Linked DNA regions of Homo sapiens: all the other regions are reported to be linked to region 3. The links are microRNA targets in miRTarBase. Many come from high-throughput screens and were not tested one by one. Region 3 holds a microRNA gene; each other region holds the end of a gene's coding sequence.

The links. The annotated mature microRNA hsa-miR-3120-3p reads CACAGCAAGUGUAGACAGGCA and lies in region 3 at 3,296-3,316, opposite strand. An mRNA with a match to its seed (bases 2 to 7 or 8) in the 3' UTR can be bound and repressed. Matches are read on the target gene's strand: a 7mer-m8 pairs with bases 2 to 8, a 7mer-A1 pairs with bases 2 to 7 and ends in A, and an 8mer does both.
Region 1: miRTarBase lists TRERF1 as a target of hsa-miR-3120-3p. Seed matches in the 3' UTR shown: 7mer-m8 at 1,324-1,330, 8mer at 1,993-2,000 and 7mer-m8 at 2,247-2,253.
Region 2: the mRNA of KRTAP5-4 is a reported target of hsa-miR-3120-3p. Seed matches in the 3' UTR shown: 7mer-A1 at 4,100-4,106 and 7mer-A1 at 3,812-3,818.

What each region holds. Positions count from the first base shown.
Region 1 is chr6:42,224,251-42,229,324 of GRCh38, reverse strand. It overlaps TRERF1 (transcriptional regulating factor 1), which reads left to right. Exons shown (of 18, transcript NM_001395490.1): 18 at 656-4,394. The coding sequence ends at 980. It overlaps LOC105375061 (a long non-coding RNA gene), which reads right to left and starts at 4,586. Exons shown (of 4, transcript XR_001744122.2): 1 at 4,466-4,586. RefSeq lists an enhancer at 4,739-4,818.
Region 2 is chr11:1,617,197-1,622,270 of GRCh38, forward strand. KRTAP5-4 (keratin associated protein 5-4) reads right to left here and starts at 4,942. Exons shown (of 1, transcript NM_001347674.1): 1 at 3,762-4,942. The coding sequence starts at 4,897. The coding sequence ends at 4,211. RefSeq lists an enhancer at 1,986-3,185.
Region 3 is chr1:172,137,100-172,142,173 of GRCh38, reverse strand. MIR3120 (microRNA 3120) reads right to left here and starts at 3,366; the gene lies at 3,286-3,366. The region is part of intron 14 of DNM3 (dynamin 3); the gene reads right to left. DNM3OS (DNM3 opposite strand/antisense RNA) reads left to right here. Exons shown (of 4, transcript NR_103486.1): 3 at 1-38; 4 at 1,578-5,074. MIR214 (microRNA 214) reads left to right here and starts at 3,267; the gene lies at 3,267-3,376.

The DNA of each region.
Region 1 (5,074 bases), not on the chromosome of region 3:
CTCTACAAAATATTTAAAAATTAGCCAGGCATGGTGGTATGTACCTGTAGTCCTAGCTAATCGAGAGGCTCAGGTGGGAGGATCACTTGAGCCCAGGAGTTCAAGGTTATGGTGAGCTGTGATCACACCAGTGCACTCCAGCCTGGGCAATAGAGAGACACCCTGTCTCTATTTAAAACAACAACAACAACAACAACAAAACCAACAACTTTCAACTGTGGAGGAACAGGGACAGAGGCCAGAGGCAGATGGTGGGTTGTTTCATGATGGGGACCATCAGGGCTTGTTAGCATGATTTAGAAGATTCTCCAGTGGAGAGGGCATGGTCAGTGATGAGGAGAAGGGGGAGGCTGAAAGAGGAGAAAGAGCCTGTGCTCCAGACTCCAGGTGGACAGGAGGCCTTTGAGAATTCCTCCTCCATTGTCACAGGAAGGAAGCCTGAGGCACAGTAGGTGTGTTCTGTCCCCATCCCTTTCCTTGTAATGCTTGGAGAGGAAGGAAGAGAGGTGACAGGTCACAGGGGAAGGAGGTCCTAGAAGCCGAGCAGCCAGGGACTTTGTCAGACCACACACCCCCATTCCCCGTAGGACACCTGGATTTCCAAGAACTCAGATCTCCTTCTAAATTCTACACACCTCTCTTTCTTTATTTTTAGAGTCTTCTTCAAGATCAAAAGCCGAAATGCACACATGAAAACTCACAGGCAGCAGGAGGAACAACAGAGGCAAAAGGCTCAGAAGGCGGCTTTTGCAGCTGAGATGGCAGCCACGATTGAGAGGACTACGGGGCCCGTGGGGGCGCCGGGGCTGCTGCCCCTGGACCAGCTGAGTCTGATCAAACCCATCAAGGATGTGGACATCCTCGACGACGACGTCGTCCAGCAGTTGGGAGGTGTCATGGAAGAGGCTGAAGTTGTGGACACCGATCTTCTCTTGGATGATCAAGATTCAGTCTTGCTTCAGGGTGACGCAGAACTATAAAGCCCTGTGTGTCACTTAGAGACAGTGAAAACCCACGGCCTCCATCTTCATTAATCAGGAAACCTGGACTGCCTGCTTGTTTTGTAACCCTTTTAAACTACCTGTTTTAAAAGTGGTCATTTTATTCAGGTTTAGAAAAAAAAATCCTATTTCTTTTCCTTTTATTTAAAAAAATTTGTTTTTGTGGGGGGTTGGGGGAATAAATAATTGGCACAACTATCTTTAAGAGGTGTTTCATCTGGGCTACCTTCTCATGAAATCATTCCCAGTAGGGACTGAAGCTGACCTTCATGTTCCATTGCATTCAGATGTCAACCATCCCGGTTGCCTTTTATCCCAAAGCTTGCTGTGAGTGTGTGTGTGTGAGACGCAGGCGACCCTCTTAGTACTGGGGTCTTGGGGCCAACTTTTCCCATCAAGCGTTACTTTGATTCTGTTCTGACCTCATTCCATAGTTTGCAGTGAGCATGGCATCTTTGCCTGGAGATACTATGCTAGGGGCAGCTTTCCAGGGGCAAAGCAAGCCCTCGTGTTACACGGCTCTCCTCCAGCTCACACGACATGTGAGGAGATGACCAAATGTGAAAACAGGTTTCCCCTGTGTTGCCCGTCATCCTTTGGCCCGTTCACAGGAATGGAGTACTGTATAATTTTAGGCTTTCATTCCCAGCAGTGTTTACTGAGGACCTGGTTTTCTAGAACAGGTGTGTCCTGTCCTCTTCCATGTTCCCTGGGGGCTGGTCAGCTCCAAGTTGTGGGTGGCAGAGCTGTGTTTCAGCATGAACTGACTAGAGACCCATCTGGAGGCAAATATTAAGTTGCCAGGACTGCTTTCACTTCAGGGTGATTGAAGGACACATATTGAAGTACCTAGAATGCCAGAAAGTGTTCTATTGCCCAAAAAACAAATCAGAAAAGCCTATTCTTTTTTGCAACGCTGTTAATGATTAGTGGAGTTCTGAAATTACTTTGTGCCACTTGGAAGTACTGTGAAACCGCATTCACTGGGATTTTGCTGTAATTCACATCCGCTGGACTGAAGTTTACCTTGATGTTAGCTATAAGAAATAGTTTTCTAACACATACGATAGCAAATACAAGACAAATAGCATTGAAGGCCAACAAAAATGGCTTCAGATACACCTTAGCTATAATGTTTGCATTCAAACAATGAATGTATTCATCACAAGTCACTTACCAAAGCACTTCTAGACTTCTCCAACCTCCATGACTTTGCTCTGCTTCCTCCTGTCCCTGTCAGCAGGGTTGCTGTTTGTACTTGAAGGTAATAAACCTGTAATCCTTCAAAAATGCCATTTAGCCCCAGGCTTCTGAGCTGAGTCAGACTGACCCATCCCACCGTTAGGGCAAAAGTCAGGCTGGGACACAGCGCCAGTACAGAGAGGATCCTGCTTCATGCAACTCCCCTTTTGGAGTTAATGCAGCGTGATTTCCTGGGCCGGTGTTTTCAGGCATCGCCCACCCCAGGTATGCTGGTTCCCAGCTCCACGTAGGTGTGCCTATCACGCTGGGCCACTTTGCTGACAACATTCATAGCTTGACATGAGAGAGAATATCAGCAGAAGCATGAGAGTAGGACCTGACGTCTTTGACTCTGCAAAAGCATTTAGCACACACTCATGGGGGGGAACTGGCTGTGAGCCACAGCAGCCCCACACAGACAGTGGTCTCTGAACTTCAGGAAAGCCATGGACAGAAAAAAAAATAAAATTCTTTTCCATCATTCTATTTTCAAAGAGGTCTTGGCGTTTTCCTACATCTTTTGTTTAGAGGGGGAAAAAAGTTTCATTTGCTGCCATTTCAGAAAGGTTATGCTATCCTGTTTTATCCAAGCAGTTGTGAGTCAGGAACTGCCTGGGCAGTGTGCATCAACTTTGTGGCCGAACCATTACAGCTGTCATATCCTTGGCTGATCGTCTCTCCCAGGGACTACTGCCCTCCACTTAGTGTCTGAGGGTAAGCCTAGAAGGGTGCTGCTATTGGGTCTATGGAAGCTTATCTATCAAAGGAGCAAACATCCAGAAAAGTGTTTATAAAGCAAATGTATTGCCTCTGTTTAGAGATTTGCCCAGCTGTTCCAGTTTTAAACATTAAAAAATAAACTCAGTTGCCATGGCAAAAATAGAATGCACAGCTTACTTATAATTTTCCATGCAGTATAGCATAAGGATTTTTGACTTGAAACAACCAAAGAACTCCTCCTTAACGAGACAGTTCAAATTCCTGAATTAGTATTTCTTGACTATCAACTTAAAGAATGGACTTCCTAGTACAATGTTGCACTTATTTTTTTTTCTGAAATAATTCTGCCTGCATGTATGTGTTGTGTTTTAGCTTCTCCCCTTACCCCACCCCAAAGATCTTTTCTTCCTAATGGTTAATGTCTCAACTCGGTTACTGTTTACTATCAGATGGTTTTTCATTAGTGAATTTAGACCTCTTTGAGAAAGCTTGTATATAAAAAGTTAACAGATATATTTTATGGAAAAACCCATCTTATTTTCAAATATATTTAACTGCTGTTATATTTTATTAGAGGAAGGTTGTAAATATTTTCTAGGAGTTCTATTGTAAAGAAAAGTATTTTTGAAAAAAATTAATGTAATAAAAAGGAAAACATTTTTAAATAGTGGTTGTGATTGCTTCCTGTTCTGGCTTCGTTATGTTCTATTCTCAGCAGATGAATTGCATGCCTTCCATATCAGGATGTAATTTATTCAGGTTTGCACTATTATAAGTTGACATCATAATATCTAGTGTGCTTAACTGTATTTTCCCGGAATGCAAGTCCCTTGGTCCATATTAAAGCACTATGTATAGCATATTCATAATTTTTCTTTTGTAACGTGTGTATTTTTAATAAGGATTTTATGTAACATTTTGGCAACAAGAGGACCGTATTTTCTAGTGAATTTTATAATAACATTTTGCTAAAAATGTTTCTTCCTAGGTCAGTTTTTGTTAAGGTGAACCAAAAGTCTTATTTTACCAGGGGTTTAAAAAAAGTTTGAAGCTTGAAAGCAAAGTTATATTTAAACATCATATGTAACAAATAAATAAAGATGTTTTATAGACTTGTCCTAAAAAGGTGCATTCCTTAAAAAAAAAAAAAAGAAAAAAAAAGGAAACTGGGGCATTCTAGGTTGTTTCCCCTCCAAGTGATAAGCTTTTTTTTTTTCTTAATTATCACAATGCTTCTTCAAAAAGGGAACCAGGGAAATTTTATTTAACACATTCTAATCATTAGCCTCTCAGAAAGTTATTACAGTTCCTATAGATGGGCATTCATCAAATGGAGATGTAACCAAACAGACACTGTCATATTTATTTGTGAAAACCTGATTCAATATTGCATCAGCTGCTCTGAAAATAAAATATTAATCTTTTGCGTTTCGTTTGGCTTAAATATTTCTTCTTTCTAGCCATTGCTATGACTTCTCAATGCTGGATAAATGCTAGTTTACCTGTTAATTGGTTTCCGTAGACAACAAGTTTAAGTCGGCTGATCAAATTTAATGATCATTATTAAAGTGTCCCCCGACTCCGAAGACCAGGACATACATTTCTGCTATTCAAGCAGTGGATGAACCACTTGGGTTCGTAAACCTTATGACTCAAACTGTGTCATAAACTCAAACTGAGTCATAAACCTTATGACTCAAACTGTGATTCAAGGGAGCACACTGTGACATACAGGTGTCTTACACTAAATCCTCCACAAAGTCTTAAGTCCACCCCGATTTATTTGCATTTTAAATCTGAATTTCCAAATTTGAGTAAGTAAGTTTACTTTTTTTTTTTTGACAGTCTTGCTTTGTTCCCCAGCCTGGAGTGCAGTGGCACGATCTTGGCTCACTGAAGCCTCCACTCCTGGGTTCAAGCAATTCTCACGGGTCAGCTCCTCTAAGTCCACCCCGATTTATTTGCATTTTAAACCTGCATTTTCAAATTTGAGTAAGTATGTTTACTTTTTTTTTTTTGAGACAGAGCCTTGCTTTGTTCCCCAGCCTGGAGTGCAGTGGCATGATCTCAGCTCACTGAAGCCTCCACTCCTGGGTTCAAGCAATTCTCAC
Region 2 (5,074 bases), not on the chromosome of region 3:
AATATTCACTAGTGGCAGTGGTGCATGCCTGTAGTACCAGCTACTCGAGAGACTGAGGCAGGAGGATCCCTTGAGCCCAGGAGTTCGAGACCAGCCTGGGCAACACAGTGAGACTCTATCTCTATTAAAAACAAGAAGAGGAAGGTAAAAAAGAAAATAATCACAAACAAGTAAACAAGCTGACAATGTCATTTATTTATTTATTTTTTATTTATTTGAGACAGGGTCTCACTCTGTCACCCAGGCTGGAGTGTAGCAGTGCAATCATAACTCACTGTAGCCTCAACCTCCCAGGCTCAAGAGATTCTTCCACCTTAGCCTCCCCATTAGCTGGGACTGCAGGTGTGCACCACCATGCCCAGCTAATTCTTTCATTTTTCTGCAGAGACGGGGTCTTGCTATGTCACCCAGGTTGGTCTTGAACTCCTGAGCTAAAGTGTTCCTTCTTCCTTAACCTCCCAAAGTACTGGGATTACAGGAGTGAGCCAAGCCCAAGCTGACTACTTCTTTTTTTTTTGAGACAGAGTCTTGCTCTGTCACCCAGGCTGGAGTGCAGTGGCACCATCTCGGCTCACTGCAAGCTCCGCCTCCTGGGTTAACACCATTCTCCTGCCTCAGCCTCCCGAGTAGCTGGGACTACAGGCGCCCACCACCACATCTGGCTAATTTTTTCTTTTTTTGTATTTTTAGCACAGATGGGGCCAAGCTGACCACTTCCAAAAGTGTTCTCCACTCAAGCAGCTCGTTTACTTAACAATATCACTTATTCCCACACACCCCCTCCCAAATGTCTTTCATGTCTTTGCAGAACCAGCTCTCTTAAATACATTTTCCACAGTCATATTTACGATGCAGATTTTAAGTAAAATTGCAATGCTTGCAAGAAAAGAAACGTAGGATTCTGTGATGTCACTGAAAGTGACATTGGAGAACATCTGCTGGGAGCCAGGCAAGGCCACCACGGTGAAGATCAGGCGGTTCACCCTGAAAGAGAAGCTGGTCAAGGAGGCAAGATAGAGGCTTCCCAATGGGGTGAGTTGACCTCAAAGAGAGGCGTCCGTGAAGGATGAGAAGGAGCTCAGTTGTTTTTGCTACGCGACTCCCTTCAGCGTCATTCTGTCACGGCCAACTGTGAAATGAAGGATGTTGCAGCAGGCAATCCTATGATTTTATCAAAAAATTATGCATAAAATGTCCAACACGTGATTTTCTCTTTGTTGATTTCATGGAGAGTTACAACTATGTCTTAAATCTTGCTAACAATCATGTGACATCTGTTCATTATTAAGGAAGGTTTTGGGTTTCTTTCTCTTTCTCTTCTACCCCCACACCACAAGCACAGACAGCATTGGTTCTGTTGGGCCTGTTTCCAACGAATGGCTGGCGGCAGGCTCTTCTCTGGTGCCCATTACCGTGGTAGTGAGGCCATCTTTGATCTGCAGGTCACTGGGTCCTGCCTGGGCCAAACACCTCCCCCTCTTCCCTGCAGAAACCTCTTCATCACACAGCAGGACATGAATTTACCCACAGGAGCCACAGGCCAAGCAAAGAGAACGCCAAGTGAGCCATGGGGGGAGAAGTTTCCGGCGTCTTCTTCCGGACCCACTGACCCCACAGCAGCCCCTCCTGCCCCACTGGCCAGGCTGGAGGCAGCTACCAACTCCCTACCTCAGTGTGGTCTGTTCTCATGGAACCTCATCAAAGTGTACCCTTAAAAAGGGTTCCTTTTAGCCGAGCACGGTGGCTCATGCCTGTAATCCCAGGACTTTGGGAGGCTGAGGCAGGCGGATCATGAGGTCAGAAGATCGAGACCATCCTGGCTAACACGGTGAAACCTCATCTCTACTAAAAATACAGAAAAAAAAAATTAGCCAGTCGTGGTGGTGGGCGCCTGTAGTCCCAGCTACTTGGGAGGCTGAGGTAGGAGAATGGTGTGAACCTGGGAGGCAGAGCTTGCAGTGAGCCGAGATCGTGCCACTACACTCCAGCCTGGGCAACAGAGTGAGACTCCGTCTCAAATAAAAAAAAGAAAAAAAAAAAATTCCTTTCATTTGAGCTTCAATTGTTCTTTGCTGCTCAAAAGCCTTCTAAGTCTTACCATTTACCAGGCAGAACTGAGAACTCTGTAGCTCCCCAGGTTTCTCCAGGCTTTCTAGAACTTTCCTCCTGGCTGGCAAATCAGCCGGTTCTTTCGAGCTCACCCTGTTCTTGTAATGCTTTGATAAATGCAGCCACAACGACCCACGTGGGAGTGGCATTGTGTTTTCTGAACTCTTCCCTCAGGGATACACGATCTGGGACAGTCTTACCAAACACATAATAACTACCTTTCTCACCTCTAATAACTTTCCTTTCCACCCACCCTCTGACCAATAAACCAGGCCCACAATGCTATGTTTTTGTTCTGGTAGGTTTCTGGGTCAACCAGGATAGACCAATTACGCTGCTCACACGCGCCACCCCCACGTTTCAGTGACTTCACACGACACAGGCTTACTTCCTGTTCATATCCCAGGCCACTGCACGTCAGCTGGTGACTCTGCTCTGTGCTTCGTCACTCTGGGACTCAGTCGGAAGCAGCAGCCACTGCTTGGAATGTTGGTGGTCATGGTAGGAGAAGAAACGGAGAATGCAGAAGACTGCAGCAGGTGCTTCAAACTTCTTCCCACTGACGCAAGCAAATCACATGGCCACACCTGACTTAGAGAGGGCTCATGGAAGGGCCACCCTACCACCTGCCATCCAACCTGTTCCCAGAAGGAGAGGAGAACCAGGATGCCTACAAATAGCCCTAATTACCACCCCATTCTGGGCTCTGTGTGGCAATGCTGCCAGTCCTATAGATAGGTTTTTGCCTAAATGAGCTTAAGCTTTTTTTTTTTTTTTACTCCAACATATGCATTTAAGGCTATAAATTTTTCTCTAAGCACTGATTTGGCTGCATGCAGTAAATTTGATAGCCCCATTATTTCATTAGGGGTTACAAAATGGTTAGCTTCTAATTCTACGATTTCTTCTTTATTTATAAACTGGAATACTTCCTCTAATTTTTTGGTTACCGTAAGATAGAGTTTCTCTATCAGAGATAGAATAAGTGCCTGATTATTTTCCTTTATATAGTCATCTTCGAAATAATGACTTGATTCCTAGAATCCTCTAAAGGCAACTAAATTTTACAGTTTGCATAGTATCTCTATTATTATTTGTGTATGTATGTGTGTGCGTATGATTACTCACTCCTAGTTTAAACATATTTGATGTGTATCAGTCCAGTTAAGAAATTGGTGTTCAGATTGTTTCAAGTCTGTCTATACAGAGTTTCTCCAGGTTTGACTCTTACCTTTTTTTTTTTCTTTTTTTGAGACGGACGAGAGGCAGCGGAGACAGCCAGCCCCATCCTAGCACCTTCCAGCAACATCACCATCAGACTCACGGAGTCCGAAATATAACAAGAATAAGAAAACAATAGCCATAGCCATAGTAATGACACCGAACAACAGAGAAATCAGCAAGATATGTGTTTCAGTTTGTCGGCATGGTATTTTTATTAGTTTGCAACTTTCTGTTTAAGATAAAGCAGTGTGATCCTGGTTAACATGGTGAAACCCTGTCTCTACTAATAATAATAAAAAAAAAATTAGCCGGGCGTGGTGGCGGGCACCTGTAGTCCCAGCTACTGGGGAGGCTGAGGCAGGAGAATGGAGTGAACCCGGGAGGCGGAGCTTGCAGTGAGCCGAGATGGTGCCACTGCACTCCAGCCTGGGTGACAGTGCGAGACTCCATCTCAAAAAAAAAAAAAAAAAAAAAAAGATACAGCAGAGTGTTGGACATGCAAAGCCACTCCAAGGAAGCCTCTTAAACGCCCACCTTGTTGCAGGTGGGACGCTTATGCCCAGCTGCTCCAGCTGGAAAAGACAGGACTGCAAGTGGGTTCAGGAGCTCAGGCCTCTGAAAAGATGAGCAAAGGCGAGGCTAGTGGGTGAGGGGTGATTCAGCTGCAATTGCAGTTGACTTGGGGAGAGAATTTGTTAGGAGAGACAATGGACATTAATTAGGGTGGACTCTTCTTAGGAAAAGGCAGCCAGATATGGCATCGTTCTACAGCAGGGAATGGACCCTGAGCAATGATTTGGGGCTCAACAATGAAGGACAGGTCACAGCTTTGGAAGACAGGATTAGCAGGACTCACATGAGGCCTGAGTCCAGAGCCTCAGATCTTACACTGGCAGCACACAGGGACACAGCAACTAGACTGGGAGCAGCAGGGATTGCAGCAACTGGACTGGCAGCAGGATGACCCACAACCTGAGGAGGAGCAGCAGGGCTTACAGCAGCTGGACTGGCAGCAGTAGGGCTTGCAGCAGCTGGACTGGCAGCAGGATGACCCACAACCTGAGGAGGAGCAGCAGGGCTTACAGCAGCTGGACTGGCAGCAGGATGACCCACAGCCTGAAGAGAAGCAGCAGGGCTTACAGCAGCTGCACTGGGAGCAGCCACAAGAGCCACAGCCTCCTTTGGAGCCCCCACAGGAGCCACAGCCCCCCTTGGAACCCCCACAGGAGCCACAGCCCCCCTTGGAGCCCCCACAGGAGCCACAGCCCCCCTTGGAACCCCCACAGGAGACACAGCCCCCCTTGGAACCCCCACAAGAGCCATAGCCCCCCTTGGAGCCCCCACAGGAGCCACAGCTGGAGCAGGAACAGGCTGGCACACAGCAGCACACAGGTTTGCAGCAGCAGATGGGCACACAGCAGCTGGAGCCACAGCCCCCACAGCCGGAGCCACAGCCCCCACAGCCGGAGCCACAGCCCCCACAGCCAGAGCCACAGCCCCCACAGCCGGAGCCACAGCCCCCACAGCCGGAGCCACAGCCTCCAGAGCAGCCACAGCAGCCCATGGTTCTGGTGGATTGAGGGTGGAGCAGGTAGAGGAGCAGATGAGATGGAGGTGCAGGTGTGGAGCCCCCTGAGCCTGGACCCCCTTATATCCCTGGGTAGGGTTGCTCTGAGACCTTGGTCACTCCATCATTCCCAGCACTTCCTGGGTATGTGATTATTTGTTTGCTGGACTTCGG
Region 3 (5,074 bases):
AGCATCTTCAACTAAAACTACCCCTGGATGTAATAAGTGTAAGTATTAAAATTAAACATTATATGTGGTCATGAAGAGAAAATTGTTTCAGGGTCTGTCCAAACTACACTTCATAGAAATTTCATAATTATTTTTCATTTTAGCATGTGAATGATTGATAAATTGGACTAGGTACTGGGTTAAAAGGACTTTTCCACCATCTAAGAGAAAGGAAGTTCAGAGCCTTAGCTTCAACACCACAATTTCTTAACTGGAAAAGGATCAATCTAAAACGGTGGACTTAAATTTTCAAACTCATTTTTCTTTTAGGCCACAGATCTCAAAATCAAAGAAAGACTGTTTACTATAGGACAAAGTTTCACACTGATCACTTTCCTGTAGTTAGTCAATAGGCTTAATATCCTTCCTGCTTGGCATTCGGGCTTTCGGCCCAGATAATATGTTTATGTTTGTAAAAGACCAAAATATACTATCTACCCCCACCTCTCGCCTACAGACCACCCATGTATTTCACTCTGTGGGAAACAGTTTAGGCATAAAAATCCTAACGAAAGAATTCTCCCCACTTTTTTGGTTGAAGTCTTAAGCTGTTATAAGATATAAAAAGTACAACTTGGTAATGTGAAAAAATTCACTCATCCACAAGCATCCATGCTCGGTAAAGAGACGCCAAAGCTTTCACTTACTCTGTAAGGGATCTGCTCTTTATAAACAATGCACTTTACTCTGCTCTAAGGAGAATAGCCCACCCATCACAATAACGTCAAAATAATAACTAAGAGACCATCACTCAGAAATCCTGGCTTAAAATAACTAGAAGGTCAGGCTTTAACCTGAGACAGGAAATTCCTGAGTTAAGATAGAAACTTTCTTACTTCAAATCCCTTCTTACTTTCATGTTCTGTAAATTAAGTAGAAATAAATATTTACTCATTTTCAAAGGTCTCTTACAAATAATTTTTATCAGTTTTAATAGTTAGAGATAACGAAGTAAATTAGGAAAAATAATTAAATCTTCATTTTGAATTTTTTGACTTAGCGTGACAGCCAGTTTCCTGGAGTTGCTTTGGTTTAATTTCACTACAGAAGACTTAGAAGACAATTCTTTTCTTACATTTTTTTCCTTAAGAAATAAAAGACAAAAAGAAAACAAGGTGTAATAACCACACTAAAAATTACATGGTATGATAATAATACAAATAGCTCTTTTATGTTTTAGCTAGTATTTTAAGTAATAATAAACTAATATTCAACCTATAATTTGGGAGATTAAAAAAAGGTCAATATGGTTTTCAGTCTTTCATCTTTTTAACAAGTTTAGGGGCAGGTTCAACATAACAATGAAGTGTGCATATGTCACATAGTTACTGTAAGTGTGTTTTAAAAATCTATCAGAAACATAAATTGTCCAAAAGCCTTATGAATAGAACAATTGTTTTCAGCAAGATTTTTTTTTTCCCCTGAAAAACTGTTGTGGTTTTTCTGGCTCAAAAAATTTTTATATCTTGCCTTAATAAAACTGTTTTATATTAAAGCATAACATACAAACTCACAAATATTTCTTTTTATTTTTTCAGGTTGCATGCATCATTCCTTTAATTGAGCAGAGTTAACTGGATCAAATTATTTATGGGAGAGAGAGGAAAAGTTATAAAGAATTATAGTAATTTTTAATTTCCACCAATATACTCTTTGTAAGTGAATCACTCTATAATTACTTTCTGTTGCACTGAATGCAGCAACAATAACACAATAGTATTTTAAGGCACTGGTTTTTGGCATACTCTAACCTTGTAATTATTTAAATAACAGCCAAGTTTACTCATGTTTTTGATTCTGTCAAGAAAAAAAAAAAGTTCCTTTACTCGAAAGTGATGGCCGAAACAGAATCGGAAATTTGTTTTCTTGAAATTACATAAATACACAGAAAATGGCACTTATTAGCTTTTGTTAAAACATTACCTTACCTAATCACTGCATAAAAGTCCAGATTTGTAGAAAATTGTAATTTTCTCAGTATCTAAAACTATTTTGCTTTCCATTAAGTTTCTATTTGCTATTTTCTCAGAATTTTACAATTAAAGATAAATCACAAACTGTTTGTTTTTCTTAAAGTTCTTTGAGAAAATGTCTAATTATACAATCCTTGGACAATACTGTGTTTTTTTGGTGCTGTGTTTTTTAAGAAGTCCTACTTACTGGAATTTTGACTATTTGGATATTTTTGTTTTTAAAAGGGGAGGGGAATTTGCTTAATACTTCTAAAGATGTGAATTGATAATTGATATTAAAATAGAATTACTCTCAACTCACCAGAATTAAATTTTATATCTGCATATTTAACACTATTAGCTCATATAAATTATAAGAAAAATTTTCAAAGGATCTGGTTTTAATTTTTTGGATATGAAATGAATTTGCCTTTTCTGCCTTTTCTTAAGTACTATTTTGTAACTATATTGCACTAACTATATCCAAAACACATTCTGAGCATCACTGTGAGTAACAGCCTTCCAGTTTGTACCCTTTTGATTCACAGCATGGCCCTATAGTTAATTAAGAGGTGGATAACTTAAGCTCACAACTGCCTTTAATTTGATTTCACATCCACAGTTATAAACTTTGCATTTAAAAGGAAAATGAGACATTTAAATAGGTTCCTGTTGTTTCACATATAATTGGTAAAAACATATTCCCTTGTAGGATCCTATTATCAGAGCATCAAATACCAAAGTCAGCAACTTGGGTTGCCAAATAAATTAGGCTCATTAATTATTTTGAAAAGGGCTGCTGTTTCCATGTAAATGATAATTTTCTTTTTCATGGACAAGGTTATGGTACTTATCTACTAAAAGAAACATGCATAAACATAGTTTTTATCTTTAACTTCAGTATTAAAATATGCAGTTTTTTGCAAAGAGGAAAAACATCTGGTTCAATTACGCTGAACTCTGACTACATGTGGGCCAGTAATAATATGAATTGGACTTAAGAATAAACCTTGTGTTTAATCTCTTTTTTTCCTTAAAATTTTAATGTGAGTTTTCTGTTACGCAAATTATCCATGTTAGCACATTTGGAACAAATGTATAAATGTACTTTCTGAATAAAGTCAAAAGTCTAACTTGTTTTTAGTTCCATAATGTTTTAATGTTTAATTATATTGTGTATTTTTCTCCCTTTCCCCTTACTCTCCAAAATCACCAAATCTGGAAAACAGGCTGATTGTATCTGTCTATGAGCAAAGGAAACCTGAAGGAACCAAGGGCCTGGCTGGACAGAGTTGTCATGTGTCTGCCTGTCTACACTTGCTGTGCAGAACATCCGCTCACCTGTACAGCAGGCACAGACAGGCAGTCACATGACAACCCAGCCTGAATGACAACCAGCCATTGAAAGAAAGCAGCCCTCACACCATAGCATCTACACCAAGAGCTACAACCAAAATGAGGGGCTCGGGGGCCTGGGGTTTTAATCTGTTGGTTTAATACTTAACTCATGTATTATTTTATTTTGATTCAAGTATTAAAACCCACCAAAAGTAAAGTGAGTGGTGCCTATGAAATATAATAAAACCCATTTCTGAAAATGTTCCTGTGCATTCTATAGTTCTCTTTTCCTAATTGTTGTCAGCAAATCACTACCCTTGACCTTTATTGTACACAGCTTTGCAGCACCCTATATTGATATAAAAACTCAATATAACAAAACAATATAACTTCAGTCTGATGCTTAACAAAGAATAAATTATTCTAAGAATTCTTGTCCATAAACTAAGTATGGTTTTCTATGTCATGATTTTTTTTTTTTTTTTTTTTTTTTGGAAGGGGATAGGGTGGAAAGACAGAGAAAAGAAAAGGGAGAAAAAGAGTATTCCAAAGGATCAAGTGCTTTGAGTTAACTCTGCCAGTCTGGGTTAACTCTGCCAGTCTGGGTCTGGGCAAAACACAGTGAAAAGACTACTATTTCCAACTAGTGTTCAACTATATTAAAATAATAGTTTCTCCTCTTTTGACATATGGAAAGTTGAAATTTTTGATACTTCCACGCGTCATGGTATACATAAATTTATGACTGCGTCATTCTTTAATTAAGAAGGTGCTTATGCTACAGTTCTAGGAGTAGAATTTACAAGGCCAACACATTCACTTGCAACCTATGCTTCCATCACTATAAACTTTCAAGATCTTGAGATGTTCAGGCAATTCATTTATCTTCAGAAGCATAAGGAAAGTGGTTAATGCACTTGAAATGTATATTTTGACACATCTTTTGAGAAAATATCCAAACTTCAGTTTATGCACTGTTAACTGGAGTGAAATGATAAGGGATGGCTTTTGTCTATGAATACTTTAAATACTTAAGGGTAAAAGGTGGGAAGATGGATAAAATTAGAAATGTGTCAACTTTTATTTAGTTCATTAACATGTTTTAGCTTCAGTATTTGAAATTAATTTTCATCTTTCTTAGATTCTGGTCAAGCTTAAAAAATGTAACACAAGGCTACTCAAAACTTTTTTCACATTTAACAATTAAACACTTTATGTATGTATTCTTAACTAAAGCAAACTATTTTTCATTCAGCTATTTTATTTTTAAAATGAAAGTCTCAGTCTTAAAGCTAAGATCCCAGTGAGTTTCAAATTTTCTGACAATGATATTTTAACCAAACCTGACATTATAGTTTCTTTAATTAAAAAACTGAATGATGGGGCAAAACTACAAAGCACAAATATGATTAAAGTTAAATTTCTCTCATTTAAACAATCTTGTCTTATGGCAATATGTCATCTGCTAAAATTCATCTCTGCTTCTGCAAGATACATTGCACGATGCAGATTTTTGCCTTAAATAAAAGTCCCATTACTAGCAAATAAAGTCCTAAACAATACTTACAAAATGTAGAATATAAACAGGAAGACAATATAAAAATTACTCACAGAATATCGACATCGTTCTACCCAATCTTAAATGCCTTGTACCACCTGTTGCAAATGCTGCCTATGAGAGTTCACGTATGGAATTATTCTACTGGACCCTGCAAGGCTCAGGAGAGTGCTTGACAGCTCCCAGA